Regions from separate parts of the Homo sapiens genome. Here regions 2, 3, 4 and 5 are each reported to be linked to region 1. The links are microRNA targets in miRTarBase. Many come from high-throughput screens and were not tested one by one. Region 1 holds a microRNA gene; each other region holds the end of a gene's coding sequence. Distances are from middle to middle.

Region 1 (4,984 bases):
TACAGGCATGAGCCAATGCACCCAGCCTGCCTGGCTAATTAAAAAGAAATTTTCTGTAGAGATGGGATCTCGCTTTGTTGCCCAAGCTGATAGTTATCTGGTTTATTTGTTAACTGCTCATATTCCCCAATAAGACTGTGAGTTCCATGGTGGCTGAGATTGGGCTGTTTTTTTTGTTTGTTTGTTTTGTTTTTTTCATTTCTGTATCTCCTCCTCCAGGAAGCCCTCCATGACTCCAGGCTGGGTCAGCCCTGTCCCTGTGGATTCCCCATCCCAGTCTTGCACACTCTGGGTTGTCACTCTCAATGAGTCTGTTCCCATGCTAGACTGTATGCCCCAGGAGGGCAGGCAGATGCTGTCATGGTCAGCACTGGGTCCCCAGCCCTATGTCTCAGATGTTCAGAAAATATCTTGAATGGGCCAAGCACGGTGGCTCACGCCTGTAATCTCAGCACTTTGGGAGGCCGAGGCAGGTGGATCACTTGAGGTCAGGAGTCCAAGACCAGCCTGGCCAACATGGCGAAACCCTGTCTCTACTAAAAAACACACAAAAAAATTAGCCAGGCATGGTGGCCCATGCCACCCAGCTACTGTAGTGGCCGAGGCAGAAGAATGGCTTGAACCCAGGAGGTGGAGGTTGCAGTGAGCCAAGATCGTGCCACTGCACTCTAGCCTGGGTGTCTCAAAAACAAGAAAATATCTGAATGATTGTCAATATACATATATCCTGACCCCATGAAACTGCTCTGACCTGCAGTCACTGCAAAGGGGAGCAATCTGAGGTCCTCACTTTTGCAGTCTCAGCCACCTCTCATCAGATGCTTATCAAGCCCTACTGGCAGGACATTTGGGACAGATTCCAGGGGATATTTCCAGCTGCCTCGAGAAGGCTCTGGGCACCCAGAAGGCCAGGCCATTTCACCAACCACCCTGGCTCCTCCAAAGAGGAAACCAAGGCCCAGAGAGAAGCAGACAAGGACCGGGTTCCTGGGGTGTGGACTCCAAGCTCAATAGGATTTTAGGAAAAAGTTTGGGTCCCAGAATCAGGATTGTTGTCTCCTACCTATAACCTCAGTTTCCTTATCTGGAAAGGAGGTATAATAATTTCCAAACTGTAGGCCTCAGAGCTCTTGGAGGCCACTAGTTGTAAAAAAATAAATTCATACCTGGAATAACTTACAACAGTGTCTGTCAGATAGTAAGTGCTTGAGTTATTATTTTGGATTTTTTTTTTTTTTTTTTTTTTTTTGAGAAAGGAGTCTCGCTCTGTCGCCCAGGCTGGAGTGCAATAGCACAATCATGGCTCACTGCAACCTCGACCTCCCAGGCTCAAGTGATGCTCCCACCTCAGCCTCCAGAGTAGCTGGGAACCACAGGAGCATGCCACCATGGCTGGCTATTTTTTTTTTCTTTTTCTTTTCTTTTTTTTTTTTTTTTTTTTTTTTTTGAGACGGAGTTTCACTCTTGTGGCCCAGGCCGGAAAGCAGTGGGGCAATCTCGGCTCACTGCAGCCTCTGCCTCCTGGGTTCAAGCGATTCTCCTGTCTCAGTCTCCCGAGTAGCTAGGTTTACAGGCACATGCCACCACACTCGGCTAATTTTTGTATTTTTAGTAGAGACAGGATTTCATCATATTGGTCAGGCTGGTCTCAAACTCCTGACCTCAGGTGATCTGCCCACCTCGGCCTCCCAAAGTGCTCAGATTACAGGCATGAGCCACCGCGCCCGGCCTGCTATTTTATTTCCTGTAAAGACGAGGTCTTGCTATGTTGCTCAGGCTGGTTTCAAACTCCTGGGTTCAAGTGATCCACCCACCTCGGCCTCCCAATGTGCTGAGTTAGTGTTTTATCAGTCCCTGTGCATGGGGCACATACTATGAGCTCAGTACCTTTACACATTATTTCACAGGTCTATGGACCTGAGATCATAAAATTCATTTTTCAGAGTCAAGACGACTTTTCCAGGGTCACACGGCCAGGTACGGGCTGGACTGGGGTTTGAACCCATCTCTGTCAGACTCCAGAGCCCGGGCTTCCAGCCATTCCCAACTCTTTTTGCTCAAATGCACCAATCCCACTCTGGCCACATAGCCCTTGAACGTGCTGTGCTTGTTTTGTGTGTTGCCCAGGCAGGTCTCAAACTCTTGGCCTCAAACGATCCTCCCAAAGTGCTGAGATTACAGGCCTGAGCTGCCTTGACCGCCTTTCTATTTCCTCCTGGGGGGATGGGAGCACCAAGGAGATTCCAGCAAAAGGATACACCCACTCCAGCTTGAGCCGGCAAGAAGGCAGCTCCGAGCGTGTGTCCAGGCTGTAGGTGGGTGCCAGCTCGTCTGGGATCATCATGGGCACAGGGCGGCCCCTCAGGAACATTTTCACGGAGCCATCCTCTGCCAGGACACCCCCAGAGGTCAGGCACTGACACCAGCCCCATCCCTATTCCCTCTCCTCTTCCAGCTTTATTTATTTATTTTTTTAAAGGCAGGGAAACTGAGGCCAGAGAGGCAAAGACCCAGTAGCCAAGACTCCTGACCTCTGGCTCCAGCCTGTCACCCCAACAAGCAAGCTTCCACCGAGCCCTTCCCCATCTCCCCACTCACCCACACTGAAGATAACTTCTTTGGTTTTGCTGTCAGGAAAGGACAAAGAAAAAAAAAGGGTCTTAGTATTCAGTTCAGAAAAGGGGAGAAACCATTCCTCCACCCCCACCGCTCCCCGGAGGTCTCCGATGAAAACGGGGCCGAGTAAGGGGCAGAGCGCTGCCTCTCTGCAGGCCGTGTGCTTTGCTCGGTTGATCTTGCAGAGCCTAAGACACAGGCCCAGAGAGGCAGTGATCGCCAAAGATCACACAGCACGAAGTGGCAGGGACGCGATCCTGGAAGAAGGGAGTCACCAAGGACCCTTCCCTCCTAATCAGCAAGGTGCTCCCCAGCGCCCCCCACCCGCAGTTCCCCCAGCACACCAAACGTCAAGCAGAGGGAGAAACGGGGAGAGTTTAAGGGAAGGGGCGTGTCCCCACGCCGGTCTGGGTCCCAGGGGTTGGGTGAAACCTGAGATCTAAGCCCCGGGAGCGCGGAGAGGAGATGGGGGGTGGTCTGCGAAAGGGTCTCACCCAGCTCCAAAGCTACTCATGGCGGCGGGTGGCGGAGCTTCGGGGCCGGGGGTGGAGCCGGGACCGGCTCTGCCGCTTCCGGCCCTGGGAGGCGCCCGGGCCGCCGCGCCCCTGCCCCGCCCTCCACAGCCACCCCTGGAGCCGGAGGGTCCCACCGGGTCACACATCCCGGGCTGTGGACTCCCGATCCCAGGTTCTTTCGGGGTGGGTGGGGGAGAGTGGTTGAGAACATGGACTCGGGAGCGCGCCTGCTTGAGTTAAAACCCCAGTTCTGCTAATTCCTAGCAGTGTACACAGGTCGTCCAACCTCTGCCTCGGTTTCCTCATTTAAAAAATGGGGATAATAAGAGTACCCGGCCGGGCGCGGTGGCTCATGCCTGTAATCCCAGCACTTTGGGAGGCCGAGGCGGGCAGATCACCTGAGGTCAGGAGTTCAAGACCAGCCTGGCCAACGTGGTGAAACCCCGTCTCTACTAAAAATACAAAACTTAGCCTGGCGTGGTGGCTGGCGCCTGTAATCCCAGCTACTTGGGAGGCTGAGGCAGGAAAATCATTCGAACTCGGGAGGCAGAGGTTACAGTGAGCTGAGATTGTGTCATTGCACTCCAGCCTGGGCAACGAGAACAAGACTCCGTCTCAAAATAAATAAATAAATAAGAGTACTCACACCTCCCGGGGGTAGTTGCGAGGGTGAAATTGGTTAATTATTGGGAAGTGCCTGGAGTATACACAACGCTGTATTTGTGTTTGCTATGTTTGAGCAGAGTTGAAATGTGCAGCTTTTGACCTTGGTCTTGCCCTTGCGTGGCCTCCTAGCGCTGACCACGCCCACTGCACCATAACTCCAGCCTTAGGGTGATTTTTGTTTTGTTTTGTTTTTGATACAGGGTGTGGCTCTGTCGACCAAACTGGAGTGCAATGGCGTGATCATGGCTCACTGAAACCTCGAATTTCCTAGGCTTAAGTGAGCCTCCTGCCGCAGCCTCCCAAGTAGCTGGGTCTACAAGCGAAGGCCAGCACGCCCGGCTATTTTCTTTCTCTCTCTTTTTTTTTTTGTTTTTTGTTTTTTGTTTTTTGTTTGTTTGTTTAACGGAGTCTTGCTCTGTCAGCAGGCTGGAGTGCAGTGGCGCGATCTCAGCTCACTGCAACCTCCGCCTCCCGGGTTGAAGTGATTCTCCTGCCTCAGCCTCCCGAGTAGCTGGGACTACAGGCACGCGCCACCACGCCCATTTTTGTATTATTAATAGACAGGGGGTTTCACCATGTTGGCCAGGATGGTCTCGATCTCTTGACCTTGTGATCCACCCGCCTAGGCCTCCCGAAGTGCTGGGATTACAGGCGTGAGCCACCGCGCCAGGCCTAATTTATTTTCATTTTTAGTAAAGACGAGGGCTCGCTATTTTGCCCAGCCTGGTCTCGAACTCCTGAGCTCAAGCGATGATTCCCGCCTCCGCCTCCCAAACTGCTAGAATTATATAGCCTTAGTTTTTGACTCTGTCCAGATCTTCAGTATGGCCCCGCCTCTGGAGTTGACCACGCCTGTCATTCTGAGCCTCCCTTCTAACCCTGTCCCTGAGTTGACTCAGTTGCTTGAGAATTGACTGCTACCTCCCGCCAACGCTCCTTCTCCGGCCCGCCAGGCATTCTGATTACGTCCATTTTCACGTATTCCTTATGTGAATACCTTCGAGGCCTCCAAGTTGGCTGCACCTCTTGGCATTTGACCACGCCCCTACGGCCCCGCCCAACCTTTAAGCCACGCCCTTTTCAACCTGGCAGTGCCCCCCGATTTTGATGTCAAAGCTTCTGGAATCTGGAATGCCTCCACCTGGTCTCAGCCTCTGTTACTCCGTACCCCAGATTTTAATTTCGCC
Region 2 (3,000 bases), 12 Mb from region 1:
TCCTTCAACATCGGGGAGTTCACACTGGGGAGAGGCCTTATGAGTGCAGTGAATGTGGGAAGTTCTTTCCCTACAGCTCCAGTCTCCGAAAACACCAGAGAGTTCACACTGGATCAAGACCCTATGAGTGCAGTGAATGTGGGAAATCCTTTACTCAAAATTCCGGCCTCATTAAGCACAGGAGGGTTCACACTGGGGAGAAGCCTTATGAGTGCACGGAATGTGGGAAATCCTTTAGCCATAACTCCAGCCTTATTAAACATCAGAGAATTCATAGTCGATAAAAGCCTTATGAGTGGCAAATGTGGAAAATCTGTTAGCACCCTGGAGAAAGTCCTTGAGTACACAGTGAATGTCAGAAAGCTTCAGCTGAAGGCCATATCTCATTGAGTGCCACACAGTTCACAAGGGAAAGACACTTTTGATATGTAGGGATGTCCAGTTGATATAACAGCTCTGAAGGAGATCCCTTATGAGGGTGGCATCAGCCTGAATTGAACATCCTATATCTGAACATCTGCATAAATTCCAGGTATGTGTGAACTGCATTGCACCTTTTGCCCTGCCCAGGGCCCATGTCAGATTTATGTCTCTGCTGATACTATAGTGGAAGCCATTTTACCTCTACTGCCTGGCAGGTGACCACCAGTGTGCACCACTCACCCATCCCAGTGTATTCAGGTAAGTGAACCTTGGTGTTCTGTTCATGGGAGGAATTTGTAAATAGCCTAAGCATTTATTCCGTTTTTTTTTTTTCCTTTCTGATGAGTTAGGCCATGGACCTGACCCAGTTTGGCCCAGAGGACTCTGCTGGTGACCTGAAAAGAGGGACTACATATTTCAGGATATTGTTGGTCTCACATGACTCTTGATAGAGTTTGCCAGCCTTCAAATCACCAACTGTGGGAACCAACTGCCTCTTATTGCCTTGGTTTGTACAATAACAAAGGCCTTATTAATCTTGGGGGTTCTATATGTATGGGTTGGTTTGAAAACAGTTGGGTTCTGCTAACATGAAGGGGTGAATAACTTTTTTTGGAGATCCCAAACATTGTGTAGCTCAACAGGGACAGGGACAGGGACAGTAGGATGGCAGAATATAGCTCTCTCTCTAGTTTGAGCCTAGTTTTCATTGCTATTCAAGGCCTCTGAGAAAAAACTACAGGGTATTGTCCTAATTTATATCCTGGATGCCATAGAGGTCAGCCTGAGGAGGCAGCAGTTACTTGACATCCTTTGATGTTTCTGAAAGCAACATGAAATTGTTCTCTTGTTCACAAGGAATACTGCATCGTGTTCAGTGCCAGTGGGGGAAATCTGTTCCCCAGGTCCTGTATGCCTTGATATCCTGAATTCCACAGGGTAGCACCACAGGTGGTAAGATTATAGTAGGAATTATAATTGTTATAGAAGTACTGGATTGATAGAGAGTGGAAAACTGCAATAACACTGCAATAAATAGAATGTGCCCCTTTTACAGAGGTTTCCATGATGTTCGTTATTATGGCTCTTAAGGATGAGCAGGTACAGAAATCCTCAGGACCTACAGAATTGTGTATCTTGTGTAGCTGAGGTCATTGTCAGAAATTTTATGGAATCCTGTAGCCTCTGGGATTTTCACCTCAAGGTCATTGCTATGCAGGCAGGAAAACAAGGATAGAGAAGGGAGGTCTAGGCCATTGATACAGCCTTTGTGATCCAGCCAACATTTCTGTTGAGTCAGGTGGAAATGGCCTTCACTGTTCACTTGTATTTGTGATCACTGAGGCAAAATCCTCTCCCAGGACATGAGGAGAGAGATGGTGGAATCAACATAGGGTTGTCAAACCTGATTTTCCAAAAACAATAGGAAATTCAGACTTTTATTTTGAACCATATTTTGTTAGGTTGGTGCAAAAGTAACTGTGGTTTTGAACCATGATTTATTTTTATTTTTATTTTTTTTTGAGTCAGAGTCTTGCTCTGTTGCCCAGTCTGGAGGGCAATGGCACTATCTCAGCTCATTGCAACCTCCGCCTCCCAGGTTCAAGCGATTCTTCTGCCTCAGCCTCCCAGGTAGCTGGGATTACAGGCACCCGCCACCACGCCCATCTGAGTTTTGCATTTTTAGTAGACATGGGGTTTCACCATGTTGGCCAGGCTGGTCTTGAACTCCTGACTTCATGTGATCCACCCACCTTGGCCTCCCAAAGTGCTGGGATTTACAGGCATGAGCCACTGCGCCCAGCCAAGCTTTTTCACCATTCCAATTTCCTTCAAATGCTGAACAGCCGTGGAATGGTTGACATTGAGTTCTTAGGCAACTTCTCATGTAGTTGTAAGAGGATCAGCTTCTAATATTGCTCTCAATTGGTCATTGTCAACTTCCAGTGGCTGGCCACTACTTCTCTTCAAGGCTCTTGTCTCCTTTGCAAAACTTCTTGAACCACCACTGCACTGTACATTCGTTAGCAGTTCCTGGGCCAAATGTGTTTATATCGTGAGTTGTCTCTGCTGCTTTACGACCCATTGGGAACTCAAGTAAGAAAATCTCAGCCGGGTGCGGTGGCTCACGCCTGTAATCCCAGCACTTTGGGAGGCTGAAGTAGGTGGATCACAAGGTCAGGAGTTAGAGACCAGCCTGACCAACATATTGAAACCTCATCTCTACTAAAAATACAAAAATTAGCCGGGCGTGGTGGCATGTGCCTGTAGTCCCAGCTACTTGGGAGGCTGAGGCAGGAGAATCACTTGAACCCGGGAGGCAGAAGTCACAGTGAGCCAAGATCACGCCACTGCACTCCAGCCTGGACGACAGACAAAACAAGACTCCGTCTCAAAAAAAAGAGGCCAGATGCGGTGGCTTACACCTGTAATCCCAGCACTTTGGGAGGCCGAGGTGGGTGGATCACAGGTCACGAGTTCGAGACCAGCCTGGCCAACATGGTGAAACCCCGTCTCTACTAAAAATACAAAAATTAGCTGGGCATAGTGGCATGCACCTGTAATCCCAGCTACTGG
Region 3 (5,967 bases), not on the chromosome of region 1:
CAGAAGGCATGACCCACGCCACAGCGGGCTCTCAGCACCCTTCCCACGTCCCATGTCACAGGCTCTTTGAGCTGCTGGCTTTGTTCTCTCAAGTCAGGTCTGAGGGAACCCATCGGCTTCTGTAATAATCGTATTGCCTATATACTTGAATTAAAAATATATGGTGGCTCAAATGTGCCCGCGTGTATGGCAGACGGTGCGGGGTGGAGGCCATCACGCCCATACACGTGTGCACACACAGCGGGGGGCTGTGTCCACGGACTGCGCACACAGTATATATTAACATATATATTGCTCAAGTATATATGCTATTTACAGTATATATCTCTATCAACATAAAACACAGGTATTTATAGGTGTGTACAATAGATACGTCCTAGGAAGTCTAGGGGACACACGACTCTGGGGTCACGGGGCCGACACACTTGCACGGCGGGAAGGAAAGGCAGAGAAGTGACACCGTCAGGGGGAAATGACAGAAAGGAAAATCAAGGCCTTGCAAGGTCAGAAAGGGGACTCAGGGCTTCCACCACAGCCCTGCCCCACTTGGCCACCTCCCTTTTGGGACCAGCAATGTACGAGTTTTGTTCTGGAGTTTTGTGCAAAACAAATTAACTTAAAAAAAAAAAAGTTGGTTTCTAATTAATGTGGTGGGCCTTCAACACCCACAAGGATTTTAAAGAACAGCTTCTCCTTCTGGTGGGCTTCCAGGGCTCAGAGGGTCCCACTCAGAGAAGCAGGGAACACTTTGTCAGGACTAGAAAATATCCCTTCTCCTCTGACCACAGAAACAGCACAACTCGGCTGGGTGTGGTGGCTCACGCCTGTAATCCCGGCATTTTGGGAGGCCGAGGCAGGCGGATCACTTAACTCAGGAGTTCAAGACCAGCCTGAGCAATGTTACGAAATCCCGTCTCTATTAAAAAATACAATAACTAGCCAGACGTGGTGGTGCGTGCCTGTAATCCCAGCTACTTGGGAGGCCGAGGCAGGAGAATCACTTGAACCTGGGAGGAGGAGGGTGTAGTGAGCCAAGATCGTGCCACTGCATTCCAGCCTAGGCAACAGAGCCAGACTCCCATCTCAAAAAAAAAAAAAAAAACCCCCGCCAGAGCCAAAACCACAGGGGCCCTTGGTCCTGCTCATTCAGAAAACCACCCCACTGGAAGGGACACCACGGCTAACCCCATGCCTCCTGGACATGACCACTCAGCTGGCCTGCCACCTGGCTGTCCACCTCCCCATGGCCCTCGGGTTCCCTCACCCCCTCCGGTGCTCAGATAGAACTACAGCTGGTTGGTGGGAGTTCCCATGTGGGGTGCCAGCGGCTCCAGCGTCTTGTAACAGATCTCTGCTCCTAGCTTCCCTTCAGAAGAGAGGGCCCAGGCTCCTGTGACATCTCCCGATTCCCACTGCCTGTCCCTGGAGCCACAGAGCACCAGCTTAGTGACACAGAGCCTCCAGGCTCCCTTGACAGAACTCAAACAGGTCCTATCCCTGCCAAACAGAAACTACCGCCAAGAGCACCCTGGGTGCAAATACATTAAATAAAAAACTAAAACAAAGTATGGTTTTCTCTATTAAGGCTCAGTTAAGCTGCCTCCTGGGTCAAGTACTCATGAATGCCACAGCCCCCAGCCAAGGGGCGGGTGGGCAGGCAGGTGACTTGGGGGCAGAGGAGGGAGGAGGACGGCGGGGAGTCCTATGCTGGTCTAGTTGTCTGTTGGGGAGGTGGGACACCACCTAAGAAACCTCAGGCCTGGAAAGCCAGGGATGTCCCTACTGGGGGAAGCTGAGGCTCTACCTGCCCAAGTCGGGTCCAGGGAGAGCCGAGGGGACAGGAGCTGGTGCTCCAGGCTGGTGGGTCTCCTGGGACCCTCCCTCCTCCCCCAAGGACTGAGTGCTTGTGGGGGAGGGTCTGGACAGGGCCCTCTTGGCAGTCTTGCTGGGAGTCGGGCCCAGGCCCTGTGGTTGGCAGGCGAGGTACAGGGGGAGTCTGGGTCCTTCCCAGCTCGGGGATCCCACCTGGGTTCCTGTCTGAGCCTCACCAGCCCCGATGACCTGAGGGGGCCACGCTGGCCTCCACTCCGAGGGAACCAGCCCTGAGCTGATGGAAGCAGAGACCAGTGACCACAGTACTCACCCCCAAACCCTCCAGGGCACCCCAAACTCGGCCCCACCCCGCCAGCCCCAGCCCTGCAAGGTGACATGACAGCTGGCACACCGGTGTCTCGCAGGAGGGACCGGCTTCCCTCGGCATCTGCCCCTGGCCGTGGGTGAGGCCGGATGAGAAGGCGGATCAGCTCACAAGCTCCCTGGGCCTCCGAAAGCATTTTCCGGGGTGGGGGAGGTAGGGAAGAGAAAGGTCGTTCTCTGGAGGGTCGGGGGGCTCCGGGAAGGCAGGAGGGCATGGAGAGGCCTTGGCGTGGGCCCCTGCCCTGGAGGGATTGGCAATCGAGGGAGTCTCCCACAGAGGCCCCTTCCTCAGGGTCCCCAGGCTGATTTTCCAGTCTGTAGAGAAATACTGCAAGATCAATCTTCAGGGTTAGGGCTGGGCCCGGGCGGCGGCAGGGAGGAGCAGAAGAGACCCTTCTAGTGCTTCTCTGCTTGGCTGACCTTCAGGGCACTGATGACACCATTGATGTTCTCTTCGGGGACCTGTGCAGGGGTAGAGGAGGCAGATGCCTGCCCGTGAGCCCAGGAACCTGCTTCCCCACCCCGGCCCTGCCCTGGAGGGGTCTGGCGCTGGACACTCACAAGTGCATGATCAAACTTGAAAGTACTGATGTAGTAGGCTGGGATGTCTGCAGCAGCCAAGGGCTCTGAGATCTGGGCCACGATGCCACACTCATCTAGAACAGGAGAGACCGTCCTTAGCCTCTGTGTAACCTGGCTACCCTTGCCTGTGTGGCTCTTCAGCCTCTACCCTCTGTGGGCAATGCCTACCCTGCACCCACCATCCTCCTAGAGAATTCCCATCTGCTATCCCTTTTATTTTTTTTGAGATGGAGTCTCGCTCCATCGCCCAGGCTGGAGTGCACTGGCGTGAGCTCACTTCACTACAACCTCCACCTCCTGAGTTCAAGCAATCCTCGTGCCTCAGCCTCCCAAATAGCTGGGATTATAGGCGTGTACCACCATGCCCAGCTAATTTTTTTGTATTTTTAGTAGAGATGGGGTTTCACCATGTTGGCCAGGCTGGTATCGAACTGCTGTACTCAAATGATCCACCCACCTCCACATCCCAAAGTGCTGGAATTACAGGCGTGAGCCACCGTGCCTGGCCTCCCACTGGCCATCCCTCTTGAAGGCTTAACCCAGATGTCCCCCAACCAGGAGCCTTCTCTGGTCGCTGGCCAGTGAAATAGTTTGGCTTTGTGTTCCTGCCCAAATCCTCCAATTGTAATCTCAAGTATTGGAGGTGGGGCCTGGTGCAAGATGACTGGATTATGAGGGTGGATTCCTCATGAATGGTTTAGCCTCATCCTCTTGGTACTGTTCTCGTGACAGTAAGTCCTCACGAGATCTGGCTATTTAAAAGTGTGGCACCTTGGCTGGGAGTGGTGGCTCACGCCTGTAATCCCAGCACTTTGGGAGGCCGAGGCGGGTGGATCACTTGAGGTCAGGAGTTCGAGACCAGCCTGGCCAACATGGTGAAACCCCATCTCTACTAAAACTACAAGAATTAGCCGGGCGTGGTGGCACGTGCCTATAGTCCCAGCTACTTGGGAGGCTGAACCCAGGAGGCGAAGACTGCGCCATTGCACTTCAGCCTGGGCAACAGAGCAAGATCCGGTCTCAAAAAAAAAAAAAACAAAAAACAAAAAGAAAAAAAAAATGCTATCCACCAAAGACGTTGTCTGGACAACTGTGGAAACAGAGGAAAGACTAAGTCTTAGGGAATGACTGAAAATTTTCTCCTGTGGAATCCTGTCATTGTGGTTATATAGGAGAAAGTGTTTCTTCTTTTTTTTTTCTTTTTTTGAGGTGGACTCTCGCTCTGTCGCCCAGGCTGGAGTGCAGTGGCGCCATCTCGGCTTGCTGCAAGCTCCGCCTCCCAGGTTCATGCCATTCTCCTGCCTCAGCCTCCCAAGTAGCTGGGACTACAGGCGCCTGCCACCACGACCGGCTAATTTTTTGTATTTTTAGTAGAGACAGGGTTTTGCTGTGTTAGCCAGGATGATCTCGATCTCCTGACCTTGTGATCCTCCTGCCTCGGCCTCCCAAAGTGCTGGGATTACAGGCGTAAGCCACCTTGCCCGGTGCTTCTTCCCAGGATGGAAAAGGCGAGGCATTTAGGAGTAAAGTGTTGGGTGTCAGACTCTCTGGGAGATATGTGACAATTACATGTATTTACGTGAAGAAAACATGTTAAAAAATTGCCAGCAGTTATTATCTTTGAGCTGTGGAAATAAGGAGTGATTTTTTTTCTCTTTAATTTTTATCACAGCCCCAATTTATTCTTTTTTAAATTAAATTTATTATTATTTTTTGAGACAGAGTCTTGCTCTGTTGCCCAGGCAGGAGTGCAATGGAGCGATCTTGGCTCATCGCAACCTCTGCTTCCTGGGTTCAAGCGATTCTCCCATCTCAGCCTCCTGAGTAGCTGGGATTACAGGCGCACGCCACTGTGCCTGGCCAATTTTTTGTATTGTTAGTAGACATGGGGTTTCGTCATATTGGCCAGGCTGGTACTCCTGACCTCAGGTGATCCACCTGCATCGGCCTCCCAAAGACCTGGGATTACAGGCACGAGCTAACTCGCCCAGCCTCTTTTTTTATTTTTAGAGGCAAAGATTTGCTCTGTCACCCAGGTTGGAGTACAATGGCATGATCATGGCTCACTGTAGCCTTGAACTCTTAGGCTCAAGTAATCCTCCTGCCTCAGCCTCCTGAGTAGCTGGGATTACAGGCGCCAGCCACCATGCCCAGCTAATTTTAAAAATTTTGGTAGAGACAGGGCCTCGCTATGTTTCCCAGGCTGGTACAGAACTCCTGGGCTCAATGGATCTTTCCACCTCGGCCTCCCAAAGTGCTGGGATTACAAGCACGAGCCACCGCGCCCAGCTGCTTAATTTTCTAATAATAAGCAACATATTAAATTTCAAGAGGGGGCAAAATAAAAGCACTCCGATTGAAGCCTGCTCCGCACTTCCCCAAGAGGCCTGTGTACAGCTGCCACACACCAGTGAGCAACAGAAATTTCAGGCTCCCCAAGCCTCAGTCTCCCCATCTGTACCCCCCAGCAGGGGCCGAGTCACTGCGGACAACGTATGTGAATGGGCTCAGCAATGCCAGCTCCCTCAATTCCCCATGTAATCCCCCCAGGACTCACCAAACCCCAGGGGCTGTCCTCCAATCCGGACCATCTTCCAGAGCTCTCCGGATGCGCTTGTGAACAGCAAGTTACTAGGAAACCTTCAAAAGGAGCGAGAGAAGAATCCCCGAGGCTGATGTGAATTGCACTCCCTCCTTGGTGTGCTGGTGCACCAGCCAGAGCGAGGCATGGGGCTGGCCAGGCAGGGTTGGGCAGACCTCAGGGCCCCCCAAAAACAATCCCTTCCAGACACCCTGGACCCATTCGCCCGGCGGCCTCCTCGTCTTGAGGGGAGGCGGATGGGGAGGGTGATGTCAGGCTGGGCTTTGTAACAAGCCCCTCCCCAAACCCTTGCTAAGGCTGGTCTAGACACCTCTTCCCAGGTCCAGAGCACAAGCTGAGGGAGAAATAGCACCGGGGCTGCGGTTCAAATCCCCACTTTGCCACCACCCCACAGTGGACCTCGGACAACCCCTGCACCTCTCTGAGCTGGGGGACCAGCTTACTTATGATGAAGTGCTATGGTGAGGGTTTATTAGAGACAAAGTGGCAGGGCGTGGTGGCTCACACCCGTAATCCCAGCACTTTGGGAGGCCGAGACTGGCAGATCACATGCAGTCAGGAGTTGGAGACCAGCCTGGTCAGCATGG
Region 4 (6,444 bases), not on the chromosome of region 1:
GAAGTGAGAGATAGTTTTGTTTTGCTAAACTTATTCCTCTGAGAGCTATGCCATAATGGTGGCAAATAGTGAATCAATAAGGATAGTTGCAAGGAAAAAACATATAGTAATTTTTGTTAAACTTAGGACTAAAAGACTCAACGAATGTATGTGAGTAACCAATTTCTTTTATGCCTCTCTAAGTCAAATATGTTCTTTTGGATGGACAGAAAAAACACATTTACTATCAAGACCATGTTTCCCAAGGGTTGCCACTATCAATGCAGAGGTACAGTCAAAGCCTCACACCAGGAAGCTAATGGGTCCAGCAAGCCCCAAGCATCTCCAGTGGAAGGCACGTCTCCAAATGTTGCATATCTATGCTCACCATTCATGAGCTGTCAGAAGACACATCTCACGTCTGTCCTGTTTCTTGCTATAGCTAGCACCAAATATTTGCTCAGAAATCTTGGTTAAGTGCATGAGCAATGCGGTGGGATCAGCATCCTTTACCTTCTAAAGAACAGAGTTTCTTTCTCTACCAGTTCCTGACTATGGTGGAGGCTGCTTGGTCACGTGCTCTTCCTAAGCACACTGGAAGCTCACACACTTCCCAGTCCCTTTGTGGACAGGTGGAACAATGTGACCAGATCCAGCCCATAAAAAGAGGCTGAAAGTGATGTGTGCTACTTCCTGGATCAGGCATTTGAGTGGGTGAAACACTTCCAAGCTCTCAGCGTTGACCTTGAGATTCATGTGTTGAGATGACAGCATCACCAGATGGAGCAACCCAGACTCCCGAGTCAACAGGTCTAGGACACCTCACAGACATTCACAGGGAATGTGTGTAAGAATCAAATCTCTATGGTGTTAAGCCAGAGATTTCAGGATTTGCCTTGTTGCACCCCCTACCATGACTTATATAGCAATAAATTCCATTTCTTTTACATAAACAAAGTGAGAATATGGATTAGACATGAACTCAGTAAAAGCACTGTTCATAAAATATTTCATGGAGACCATGAGAGAACAGCTGTATCGCAGTGAAGTCCATTAAGTCACTTTCTCTCCTTTCTGAAAACATACAGGATAAACTTCTCAACCTGCAGTCCTTAGAAAAGGTTGAGTATCTCTTGAGTATTCGAATATAAAATGTACTCAGAATGCGATCTTATTGATTGATAGGGATGGGGAGGAGGAAGGGTTAGAACCAAGTTTTTAGAATGAACACTGAACAAATGATTCAGGAACCATACTTCTAACACTGGTAGAGGCAGATAGTGTAACTCAGCTTTGAGTTAATAATTAATGCTGTTGGTTTTAATTTACTTTTCTTCTAGGTTTCAGGACTATTAATTTTTCCATTGATTTATAACAGGGTAGCTCAAAGAATAAGTTAATGGTGATAATTATGGCTGCAGGATGTTCAGTAAGATAGTTTGTGGCGCAGGCTTTCATAAGCAAGGACGGCAACATTGAAATAGATCCTGTGCAGTGGGTGTGACTTGGCAGTTAGCTTAAAATGACTGTGCTTGTGGATTCAGGGTCCCAGATGATGTTTAATCACGGGTGCTTCCTCCTTCTGAAGTTCACACATCACTTTGATTCACATTTTTGATGGAAAATATTCCTTCCCTAAAACTCCCTCAGTTGGTGATGAATACCTGATGCAGAAATATTAACATTTGAAAATCCCAGCTCAACCTCAACCTCACCTCAGCTTTACCTTTGCTTTCCATACCTGTGTAGATTCAATGACTTAAAATATCTCGTGTACAAGCATTGAAAGGTAGTGCTATAATATTTCTAGATTTCATATCTGTAGTCATATCTGTAAATGATTTACAACAGATGCACATAGACACATGTGAAAAAAATTCTTTATTAATTTCTCACATTTCATTACAAAATGTATGTTGCAAACAACTTGAATAACCTACTTGTGGTTTTTTTTGTTTTTGTTTTGTTTTTAAACCCTTGGCTTCAAGGACTCAGGGTCTCCCTATCTCTTATGAAGTATTGGGAAACACTGATTACTGGAGTCAATAGGTTATCATTTTGCTATTTATTTTCTTCTCTCAAGCTCTGAAAAAAATGTCCTCTGTATAAATTAAACAACAACAAAAAATGTTGTAAATTCTATGTCATTACAGTCAACAGAATTATAATAATGCATCCAAAATGTGCGGCCACAAAATATCAGGTATATGTTTGAAAAAGAAAAAAATGACATTCTAGCCTTGTTAAAAGGATAATGGTCCCATATTTTTATTAACAGGTTAGCAAAACAAAATCCAATGGATTACAATATTTACATGTTATTTGAAAAATAAAGTAGTGATAAAAGCATGTCACAATTATTTTCTTTTTTTTTTTCCTTTTTCTTTCTTTTTTTGTTTGTTTTTTGGTAACCATTACAAACACCCAATCCAGGTATGGAACTGTTTAATACATTTGAAATGAGGCCAATTAAAAACAAATATAGACACAAAATGAATCTTTGTCTGGATAGTTCACACTTTCCCCATTTTCTGGTTTCCACATGATGGCCCCCATCCCTTAAAAAAATTAAATTAAAACAAACATCCTACAAATAAAAATTCTTAACAGTAAGAAAATAAAAGAAGAACATGCTTTTCAAGTAAGCACTTATTCCACAAATGCAACATCTTTCCATGGATTTTATTTGAAGCTGTGTGGGACACTGTCATCTCAGCAATTCCCCTTCCCTTTCTTCCCTCCCACCCTCCCACAACCCTTCCAAGTAAAAAAAAAAAAAAAAAAACATGAAAACCAAAGGATTCACACGTGCACACATGCACACACACACTCATACACGCACACACACATCCAAGCACACACACACACGGGCTTCTAAAACCTAGGCTTCAAGAAAAGTTCTTTTCTATTTTTTGGAACGAAACCCTTTGTTCACAATCAGAACATATTATAAATGTAGGCTTAGATTTAGTCTAAGCTGCTCCCTCCTGAAAAAGCTGATATGGGGGACAGAGCAGCTGGCAGCTAGATTTAAAAAAAAAAAAAAAAAAAAAAAAAGAAAGAAAGAAAGTAGTTCTCCAGGCTCCTTGTAGGATATGTTATTTCTTGTCCACTCTCACGAAAGGGATGGGATTCTAGTACATCCCCTCGTCCCCTAAATAAATGAAAACCCCCAACAAAACACAATGCCAGCAGAAACAAAACACAGATTTTAAAATCACACACAAAAGCCAGCCAATCCTAACAGAAATTATTTATGAGACGGATAATGCGTGAATTTGACAGGCAACAAAAGGGTGAGGAGGACCTCCTCGTCTGGCCCACAAGCTGCATAGCTGTGCCGAAAGTTTGGTTCTTTAGTTAAATTAAAAAAAAAAAAAAAAAAAAAAAAGAAAGTTAACTTCTTTGTTATTTCCATGTTTAAAATAAAAACATTCCTATTCACAAAAAACTAAATCTCCCTTGCCCCGAAATTAAAACAACAATAACAACACACACACGAAAAACAATTCATATGAAAAACTGAATTGTGCTGTGTTTGTAACACTCAAATTGATAGAAAATAAACATGTGGCAAACAAAACTCCACAATCACCTTAAAATTAGCTCACATGAATCTACCAAATTCTAAATTATAGTTGAACACTAATAAACAGCTTACCTGGAATAAAGGATGACAATTCACAAACAGTTATCTAATAATTAAAGTCTGTTTCTTTTTTTTGTTTTGTTTTTTACTAAAATAATTAAAAAAATCACAGTATTTTAAGAAATAAAACCCACATGGGGATTTTAAGCACAATTTGTGTTCCTTTCTTTAAAACTCTTTTTTTTTCTCCATTCACCATCTTGCCCAGCAGTTCTCTCTACATTTAACCACAACGACGACAGGTAGTACTGACAAATGCAGAGAGTTCCCTTGGTTAAGTTTGAGGTACTAGGAAACAGGTGACTGTTTTATGCAAAGCAGTTTTTTTTTTTTTGTTTTCTGTTTTTTGTTTTTTGTTTTTTTTTCCCAAAGCGGCTGCAGTTAGGTCTTGAAAAAGCTTAAGGTATTAAAACTAGAAAAACGCACCAAAAGTTGTGCGTCAAAAAGTTGCTCCCCAATGAGAAGTCTTCTACCGTCATGGAGCTTCTGTTTCCACATACTGTCCAAGACCACCACAGGGTGCACCGTACCATTGGGAGGTGCTTCCATATTCCGCAACAAATGAAACTTCCATGATGAAGATCCGGAAGAAAAGATGTAGTGATGGAAAAGGAGCCACATATTCCAACCATTTAAATAACTTTAATTTACATACTCACTCACACAGGTACCAGTGCTTTGAAAATAGATTGTTCAGTCCTAAAAAGCAGCTTTGTTCTGTCTTCTCTTTTCTGTCCCTCCCTTCTCAGCCCAAGCCAGCCCTCCCACTTTTTCATCACTGTTCAAGTAAGGTTTGATTAAGAATTTCACCAAACGCTCATTCTTTTTTGGCCTCTGCATTCTCCAGGAGAGATTTGTCGGCAGTTACTACACAGATGGCTACTGTTTCATTCTTTAGGGAAAAGTCTATCCCAATGGCCTCGTCATCTTCCTTTTCCTCTATGGAGGGCATTTTAACACTGTTCTCCATGATCTCTTTTGGGTGGATTTCTTCTCTGCTCACCTGCTTGGTGTCATTCAATGCCCTGGAAAAACATTTATCGAAGAGACAGATGAGTATAGTATATATATTTCTCTTTTTAAACAAAAAAATAATAAAAACCCTCGAGTGTCTTTATTTTCCTGATCCTCAAAAAGCCTTGGGGTTTCCTTTGAACAAATGCCATGGGTGTATGACAAAATACCAAGTGATGCATCCCTGCTATGTTTTGCTTAAGTCATATATTTCTGTATCTTAAAGATTTGAACTTACAGAAGTATCCATTATTATACTATATATTGATTATCCCATGTTTTCTTTCTAGATAAGCATAATCATTTTATGTCACTTTCTCTACTGGGTCATAAGTGGTAACAGCAAGAATTGTCTTATGCTCAGAGTCATCGGCTGAACCCAGAAGCTTGGAGATTGGTTATATTTATGAAGTCTAAAAGAGTAACTCAGGTACTAAAGATTTATTTGTCAGGTCCCGAAACAAATCACGAAAACAAACTAAAAACAAAAACCTGAAGATGGAACCCATGTCTCGGGAAGCTTGGTTATATTCTCTGAGGTCTAGACCCTTGAGGCTTCAGGGACCAAGCTTCAGGCTTCCTATCACCACACAAGCCATGTTTCCTCCTGAAAAGACCACATCCTAGGTTCTCTCTGCATCTGGTGGACTAACGTGCCTTGTTGAGGGGCTGATTTTATGTTCAGGGATCTCATAAGTATTTTACAAGTATGCTCTCACCTACCTGGGAGGCAGGCAGAAGCTGGCTCTGTCCCCGAGGCAGTACATGGGAATGTTCAGGGCCACTCAGGGAATGATCAGTCAGAGAGGCAGGAACAGAAGCCAGATCTTTTGACCTCGATTCACGTTCTATTATAGAATGTCACGCTAATGAAGACTAAAGGGATATTGGCTGGAGAAAACACTATACTTCTGCACACAGGCTTGAGCAGGACTGATCATTCATAAAGACGATTTTTTTCCCTATTTGACTTGCGGCTGGGTGACCATTTTAAAAAACAACAGAAAAGGAGAAACTTGGTTCCTCACCATTGCCTCTCCTCCCACGGCCCAGAAATGTGACACAGAGGGGTGTACATACTGTCAGGGGAACCAAAACAAGAGCCCCTCCCTCCCTCCCTACCTCTTGCTTTGGACAAAGGCATCCTTGAAGTGGCCCAACTTACATGCCGTGTCTCAGCACATGTCTTTCCCACTCAGAGCCCTGTGAAAACGCCCGTCCACAAAATTCACATGGAAAACGCTTCTCAGTGTTAAGAGCAGCCCCGTGGTCAGAAAATCTCATCAGCTCTGCAAAGAGAAAGCAGAAGTGTTACCTGTGTGCTGTGGGAATCAGCAGAATAGGTAAGTCAGCATTCATTAGGATACCCTCTCTCCTACCTTCACTGATAAAGCCATGTGGTGAAAGCAATTTCCAGATTCCTCACTTTTTCTTAGGTTTCCCCCTTAGGGCATTCCTTGAATAGCATTCGAGAACTGTTTCTGGTTCTTGGGCCCCAAGACCTCATTTCGCCTCACCTCCCCAATGCTTCTATCACAAAATCTGGGTCTTTCTTGACTGAAGAGCCGCTTGCCCGAGATTCCAAAGGAATCTGAGCATTATTTTTTCCGATTTATTCTCTCCCTTGTGTGATGATTTATATCAGTGCCTCACAGGCTAGCATCTATTCATTTCCTTTTTGACACAGGTTTATCTTTGTTCACTGAAAAGAACATAGGCTACCGAAAGCCCTGGACCAGGTTATGTGTTGTGGACCTCAGGGTTTCTACTTGTTCCAAGTAAGGCTGAAGGCTCATGACTTG
Region 5 (6,444 bases), not on the chromosome of region 1:
TTATAGAAGTAGAGCTATAAGCAGGAAGCAGCACTTGATTTTTAATTACTTAATCCTTTACATATCAAAATAGCATTTGACCATTGTATTGTTTATTTTCTTAGTGAAATCTATTCGAAGTATACCTGCCTACCTTGCAGAGACCCTCTATTATGCTATGAAGGTAAGTGGAGACCATGAACCTTCTATCTAATACATTTCTCTTTCTAATTATTATTCTTCACTTTTGTTTATGTTTTAGATGATAGACCTTGGGAATTTTTCCCTTATAACATTCAACCCAGTTCTACTAAATTGTTATACCTTATTGATTCACCCGCACCCGGGAGCATTTGATCCTATGTTTGAAGTTTTTAAGCATTTTGCTTCTCTCTTTTTTTTTTTTTTTAAAGGGAGCTGGGACAGATGATCATACCCTCATCAGAGTCATGGTTTCCAGGAGTGAGATTGATCTGTTTAACATCAGGAAGGAGTTTAGGAAGAATTTTGCCACCTCTCTTTATTCCATGATTAAGGTAGTAGAACCTTTCTTTAAATTACGTTTGGGAATCCAAAGCAGACTGGTATGTTGCATGAAAGACAAGGATAAGAGAACCTGATTCTTGTGTTAAGTTTAAAATTTTAGTGACACGATTAGAGCAATGAGTTAAAAAGCTTAGCATAATGTTTCCTGAAGTAGAGATGATGGCTCCCAAGTGAAAGCATGGGTATTGATGTGGCTGAGGCTCTTGGTGAACTCAGAAGCATTATTTAGTAGTGGTAACAGATGACTCAACAAACCAAACCCCTTGCCTATGATAATAATGTGTTCTTTCTGTCTTTTATCAATTCCAGCTGTCTTTATTAGTCCTTCTTTTATTTCATATCAGCTTTTCCTTTCTTTATCGTCTGTTATCACCTTATCTCTGATGCTGGTTTCTAATTCAGGAAAGAGCCAACCAGGTCATATTGGGAGTAAAGAGCCCCTAGGTATTAGTATCATTTTTGTTCTTTTTAAAACAAGGTGCTCTGTGGCCTATAATTACATTTAGCTTAAAGTCTTTTGACTTTTTTTTTTTTTTTCCAGTAAAGGTTAATGTGGACCATGTGCAAAGCAAGATTTCAATTGAGCAGAAGCTTTTAGTTTAGCATGTTTGTGGTTTGGCTGGCCCAAAGGACACTAGAGAGTTTACCCATGCACTTTTAGCTTGAAACATTAATTTATCATGCATGTCTGCATGTGAGACAAGCAGATGCAAAGCATGTTCTGCCCTTCTGTCTCGGAGGGAGAGCCATGACAGCCCTGCAGCCCCAGCACTGCCCGTGTTAGCTGATATATACCAAGTGATAGAAACTATTCTGTCTAGAAGGCTTGATTTGACTATAGTTGTTAAAGTTGCCTGATTCTTTGTGTTACCAGAGGGAATACTGAGTGTCTGAGGTTACATTGGTAGGAAACTCCCTGCATAACATTCCTGATGTGAAAGTCACAGAGATTACCCACTTGGGAGAAGAGTCTTATGAATAAAATTTGTTGCCAGTTATTTAGTTTTAAAATTTTCTATGGCTTCTGTGAGTCATGGAGGTTAATGGAATACATTTGGTTTCAGGGAGATACATCTGGGGACTATAAGAAAGCTCTTCTGCTGCTCTGTGGAGAAGATGACTAACGTGTCACGGGGAAGAGCTCCCTGCTGTGTGCCTGCACCACCCCACTGCCTTCCTTCAGCACCTTTAGCTGCATTTGTATGCCAGTGCTTAACACATTGCCTTATTCATACTAGCATGCTCATGACCAACACATACACGTCATAGAAGAAAATAGTGGTGCTTCTTTCTGATCTCTAGTGGAGATCTCTTTGACTGCTGTAGTACTAAAGTGTACTTAATGTTACTAAGTTTAATGCCTGGCCATTTTCCATTTATATATATTTTTTAAGAGGCTAGAGTGCTTTTAGCCTTTTTTAAAAACTCCATTTATATTACATTTGTAACCATGATACTTTAATCAGAAGCTTAGCCTTGAAATTGTGAACTCTTGGAAATGTTATTAGTGAAGTTCGCAACTAAACTAAACCTGTAAAATTATGATGATTGTATTCAAAAGATTAATGAAAAATAAACATTTCTGTCCCCCTGAATTATGTGTACATGTGTGTTTAGATTTATTATTAAATTTATTTAACAATGTTCTCTCTTTTTAAGCTAATAATTGACAGTGGTGTTAGTTGAGAACTGAATTTACAGTTGGTCTTTTGGGCAGTAAGAAATGCAAACCATAGACTGAATTTCCTTCATAGTACATGATTTTTCCTAAATATAGGAAAGATCGAAGGGGTCTCTGGTTTATTTGCACCATGTTTATTTAGGCATCTATTAAAGCAATGCTTGTGGTGCTACTTGCTTAGTAGAAAAGCTAATTATAAAACTTAATGCAAAAATTCAGAGTACTACCTTTCTCTTTCCTCTTTCCTATTGTGAACTTGCCTCCCATTTACTGTCTGTCACTTTCTTTGAGATAAATAAAAAAGACAATAATTTTTTCTAGAAAGAAGCAGTTTATCGATCTCTTCTAATATTTGCCTTTCAGTTTTCTGTTTTCAAACTGCCATTTCAGTTGGTGTCATTTTTCTTTTTGTACTTATGCCCTTCTGGTTGCATTTTTTTTTTTAAAGCCAAGTAATTGCCATTAATAAGCTTTTTTAAATAAAATGAACTAATCTTCCTTTGAAAACTTTAAAATAGTGATAATATTCTTTTCACCACCGTTGATGCTCATCAGAATAACCAGGGGAATCTTAAAAACTGTATGTGTACACATGATATTGGATTTTTGTTTTTTTGAGAGGCCTCATAGGCAATTTTAATGCAGAGGCAAGTTGAGAATCAGTTGGTTATACTTTTCACATAGAAGATGATATGTTTCAAAGAGCTCTGTTCTGTTATTGAAAATAGGCCACTGGCTTTAAATATAAGCCCTGGATTATTTATTAGTAACACTTTAAGAGAAATCCACCTGTGAGCTTTAACATTTGCTATATTTTCTGTAGGTCTGGATCTGAAAATTTATTAATAAAAGAATTAAAAAAATAAAAATCCACAAAAAACATTTGCTATATTTATTTACTTAGTGACCTTCTTCCCAGCTCTCTGTGAGTTTATTGGGAGACAAATTTTTGTGGAACTAGATAAGCTGATTGTAAACATCATGCAAAAAAGGAAGGATTGTTAGTAAAACTTGAGAGTAGTGAGGGAGCACTATTCTTCTATTCTTTACACAGATTAGACTACATATCCTGAATAGCTGAAACAGTATAATACTGTGGCATGAATAGACAGACAAAACAGCAAGTTCAGATATGGAAACAAATCATTTGGAAATTTAGTATATGTTAAAGGTAGGTCTTAATTTGCTGGGTAAAGATAGCATTTTTTTCTAACAAATGGTGTGAAGACAGTTGGGGAGCCATCTAGGAAAATATAAGGCTTTTTCTATACCTCATGTATCAGGTAACTCTCAAAATGAAACATTTAAACTTAAAAATAAAATCATAAACATATGAGAAAGAAGCATGGAGGGATTTCATCATACCTGCACCTTCTAGATTCTCTGGGAAGCAGATGCTGAGATGGAGTTAGGGATGCAACAGGTTTATTGAATGGAACAGGTAGAAGGCAGGATTGGGCAAGGGGTGTCATCAGATTGCACTGCAGACCTGACCAAATCTTTGCCAGTATCATGTGGAACTCTGAGGCAAAGAGTTCCTGCAAAGAGCCCTTTGTGAGACAGAAGTGCCTGGGCCCTGTGCCACCACCTTCCTTACTCAATTATTGGCTAAGTGTCTTCTGGAGAAGAGCTTGGCTTGGCTGGAAAGCTGAGGCAAAACCTGAAGGAGATTAAGAGTTGGAAGGCTGTCAGCAACCCACATTTTCACAGCTTGGAACTGAGTATTTTCTTGAAAGGGGATCTAAGTGGTGCAGTTCCATGTCTGCCATAATGATCTTGAAGTGTGAGGCCTTTCTATCACCCAAAATCCAGAAGCCATAGGAGAAAAGATGATTATTTTTGATTTCCTAAAAATCAAAAACTACATGGAAGGCAGGCCAGGCACAGTGGCTCATGCCTGTAATTCCAGCACTTTGGGAGGCCAAGGTGGGTGGATTGCTTGAGCACAGGAGTTTGAGACCAGCATGGACAACATGGCAAAACCCCATTTTTATTTTTTAAAAAACCAAACAAAAAATTAGCTGGATGTGGTGGCACACGTCTCTGGTCTCAGCTATTTGGGAGACTGAGGTGAGAGAATTGTTTGAGCACAGGAGCACAAGGCTGCAGAGAGCCTGAAGGAGGGAAGGAGGAAAGGAAGGAAGGAAGGGAGGGAGGGAGGAAGGGAGGAAGGGAAGACGGGAGGGAGGGAGGAAAGGAAGGAAGGGAGGGAGGAAGGGAGGAAGGGAAGACGGGAGGGAGGGAGGGAGGGAGGGAAAATCACCACCAAGACAATTTAAATGACAAACGGGAAAACATTTACAGTTCATACAACAAAGATCTAATCTCCTTTGTACATGCTGACACACCTTGTTTTATTGTACTTTGCAAACAATTAAAAAAAAATTTTTTTAAACAAATCATAAGTTTGTGGCAACCCTGCATTGAGTCAGTGTATCAGCACCATTTTTCCAATAGCATGTGCTCACTCTTTATCTGTTTGTCACATTTTGGTAATCCTTGCAATATTTTAAGTTTTCATTATTATGTATCTTATGGTGATCTGTGATCAGTGATCTTCAATGTTACTGTCATAATTAAGGTGCTATGAACCATGCCCATTTAAGACAGTGGGCTTAATTGATAAATATGTGAGTTCTGACTGCTCCACCGACTGGCTGTTCCCTCATCTCTCTCTCTCTTTCTCTCTCTCTCTCTGATCCTTTCTATTCCCTGAGACAAAACAATATTGAAATTAGGCCAATTAATAACCCTGCAATGGCCTCTGAGTGTTCAAATGAAAGGAAGAGACTCACACATCTCTTATTTTAAATGAAAAGTTCAAAGTGATTCAGCTTAGTGAGTAAGGCAGGTCAAAAGCCAAGGCAGGCTGAAAGCTAGGCTACTGGTGCCAAACAGCCAAATTGAGAATAAATGTAAATTTTAATTTTCTTTCTTGAAGAAAATTAAAAGTGCTACTCCATTGAACACATGAATGATTAAGACAGTGAAATAGCCGTATTGCTGATATAGAGAAAGTTTGAGTAGTCTGGTTAGAAGATCAAACCAGCCACAACATTCCCTTAAGTCAAAGCCCAATCCAGAGCAAGATCCTAATTTTCAATTCCATGAAGGCTGAGAGGTGAGGAAGCTGCAGAAGAAAAGTAAGTGAGCAGTTTTGGTTCATGCGGCTTAAGGAAAGAAGCCGTCTCTGTAATAGAAAAGTGCAAATTGAAACAGCAAGTGCTGATGCAGAAGTTGCAGCTAGTTCTCCAGATGACCTAGCTAAGATAATTGATAAAGGAGGCTACACTAAACCACAGATTTTTAGTGTAAACAAACAGCCTTCTATTAGAAGATGCAATTTATAGCTAGAGAGGATACATCAATGCCTGGCTAAAGCTTCAAAGAACAGGCTGACTCTTTAGGGGCCAATGCAGCTGGTGATGTTAAGCTGAAGCCAGTGCTCATTTACCATTCCCTGGATCCTAGGGCCCTTAAAAATCATGCTAAATCTACTCTGCCTGCATTCTATAAATGGTACAACAATGGATGATAGCACATCTGTTTATAGCATGGTTTGCTGTTATTTTAAGCCCACTTTTGAGACCTGCTCAGAAAAAAAATCCTTTTCAAAATATTACTGTACATTGACAATACACCTCATCACTTAAGAGCTCTGATGGAGATTTAGGAGGAGCTGAATGTTGTTTTCATGCCTGCTAACACAACATATATTCTGCACTCCATAGATCAAGGAGTAATTTCAACCTTTAAGTCTTATTAAAAAATGTACTTTATAAGGGCATAGCTGCCATAGATAGTGATTCTTTTGATGGATCTGGGCAAAGTAAATAGAAAACATTCTGGAAAAGATTCACCATTTTAGATGCCATTGATATGGTTTGGCTTTGTGTTCCCACCCAAATCTCATGTTGAATTATGATTCTGAGTGCTGAGTGGTGTGAAGTAACTGGATCACTGGGGTGGTTTCTAATGGTTTAGTATCATCCCCTAGTGTTGTCTCATAATAGAGTTCTCACAAGATCTGGTTGTTTGCAAGTGTGTAGCACCTCTCCCGTCACTCTCTCTTCCTCCTGCTCCACCATGGTAAGATGTACTTGCTTCTCCTTTGCCTTCTGCCATGATTGTAAGTTTCCTGAGGCCTCCCAGCCATGCTTCATGTACAGCCTGTAGAACTGTGGAATCAATTCAATTTCTTTTCATAAATTACCCAGTCTTAGGCATTTCTTTATAGC

What was found. Region 1 holds the annotated microRNA hsa-miR-330-5p (UCUCUGGGCCUGUGUCUUAGGC, at 2,803-2,824, opposite strand). A microRNA usually pairs through its seed, bases 2 to 8, with sites in the 3' UTR of a target mRNA and lowers its output. Matches are read on the target gene's strand: a 7mer-m8 pairs with bases 2 to 8, a 7mer-A1 pairs with bases 2 to 7 and ends in A, and an 8mer does both.
Region 2: miRTarBase lists ZNF154 as a target of hsa-miR-330-5p. Seed matches in the 3' UTR shown: 7mer-m8 at 797-803.
Region 3: the mRNA of CASTOR2 is a reported target of hsa-miR-330-5p. Seed matches in the 3' UTR shown: 7mer-A1 at 2,371-2,377 and 7mer-m8 at 401-407.
Region 4: the mRNA of ZNF462 is a reported target of hsa-miR-330-5p. The part of its 3' UTR that is shown has no 7-base or 8-base seed match.
Region 5: the mRNA of ANXA5 is a reported target of hsa-miR-330-5p. The part of its 3' UTR that is shown has no 7-base or 8-base seed match.

The regions. Positions count from the first base shown.
Region 1 is chr19:45,636,247-45,641,230 of GRCh38, forward strand. MIR330 (microRNA 330) reads right to left here and starts at 2,841; the gene lies at 2,748-2,841. EML2 (EMAP like 2) reads right to left here and starts at 3,151. Exons shown (of 19, transcript NM_012155.4): 1 at 3,111-3,151; 2 at 2,599-2,627; 3 at 2,259-2,388. The coding sequence starts at 3,130. RefSeq lists enhancers at 1,977-2,828, 2,065-2,359, 2,829-3,680 and silencers at 2,065-2,359, 3,056-3,335, 3,356-3,445.
Region 2 is chr19:57,698,919-57,701,918 of GRCh38, reverse strand. ZNF154 (zinc finger protein 154) reads left to right here. Exons shown (of 3, transcript NM_001085384.3): 3 at 1-3,000. The coding sequence ends at 284. Among named protein-coding and RNA genes, the nearest start is that of ZNF154, 8.8 kb to the left of the region's middle.
Region 3 is chr7:75,021,325-75,027,291 of GRCh38, reverse strand. It overlaps CASTOR2 (cytosolic arginine sensor for mTORC1 subunit 2), which reads right to left. Exons shown (of 9, transcript NM_001145064.3): 7 at 5,336-5,418; 8 at 2,758-2,852; 9 at 1-2,658. The coding sequence ends at 2,593. It also overlaps a transcript of RCC1L not described here. Among named protein-coding and RNA genes, the nearest start is that of RCC1L, 49 kb to the left of the region's middle.
Region 4 is chr9:107,009,032-107,015,475 of GRCh38, reverse strand. ZNF462 (zinc finger protein 462) reads right to left here. Exons shown (of 13, transcript NM_021224.6): 12 at 5,808-5,931; 13 at 1,842-4,653. The coding sequence ends at 4,446. All of the region lies in intron 4 of LOC340512 (a long non-coding RNA gene), which reads left to right. Among named protein-coding and RNA genes, the nearest start is that of ZNF462, 150 kb to the right of the region's middle.
Region 5 is chr4:121,663,673-121,670,116 of GRCh38, reverse strand. It overlaps ANXA5 (annexin A5), which reads left to right. Exons shown (of 13, transcript NM_001154.4): 11 at 105-163; 12 at 393-515; 13 at 1,590-2,171. The coding sequence ends at 1,649. Among named protein-coding and RNA genes, the nearest start is that of ANXA5, 30 kb to the left of the region's middle.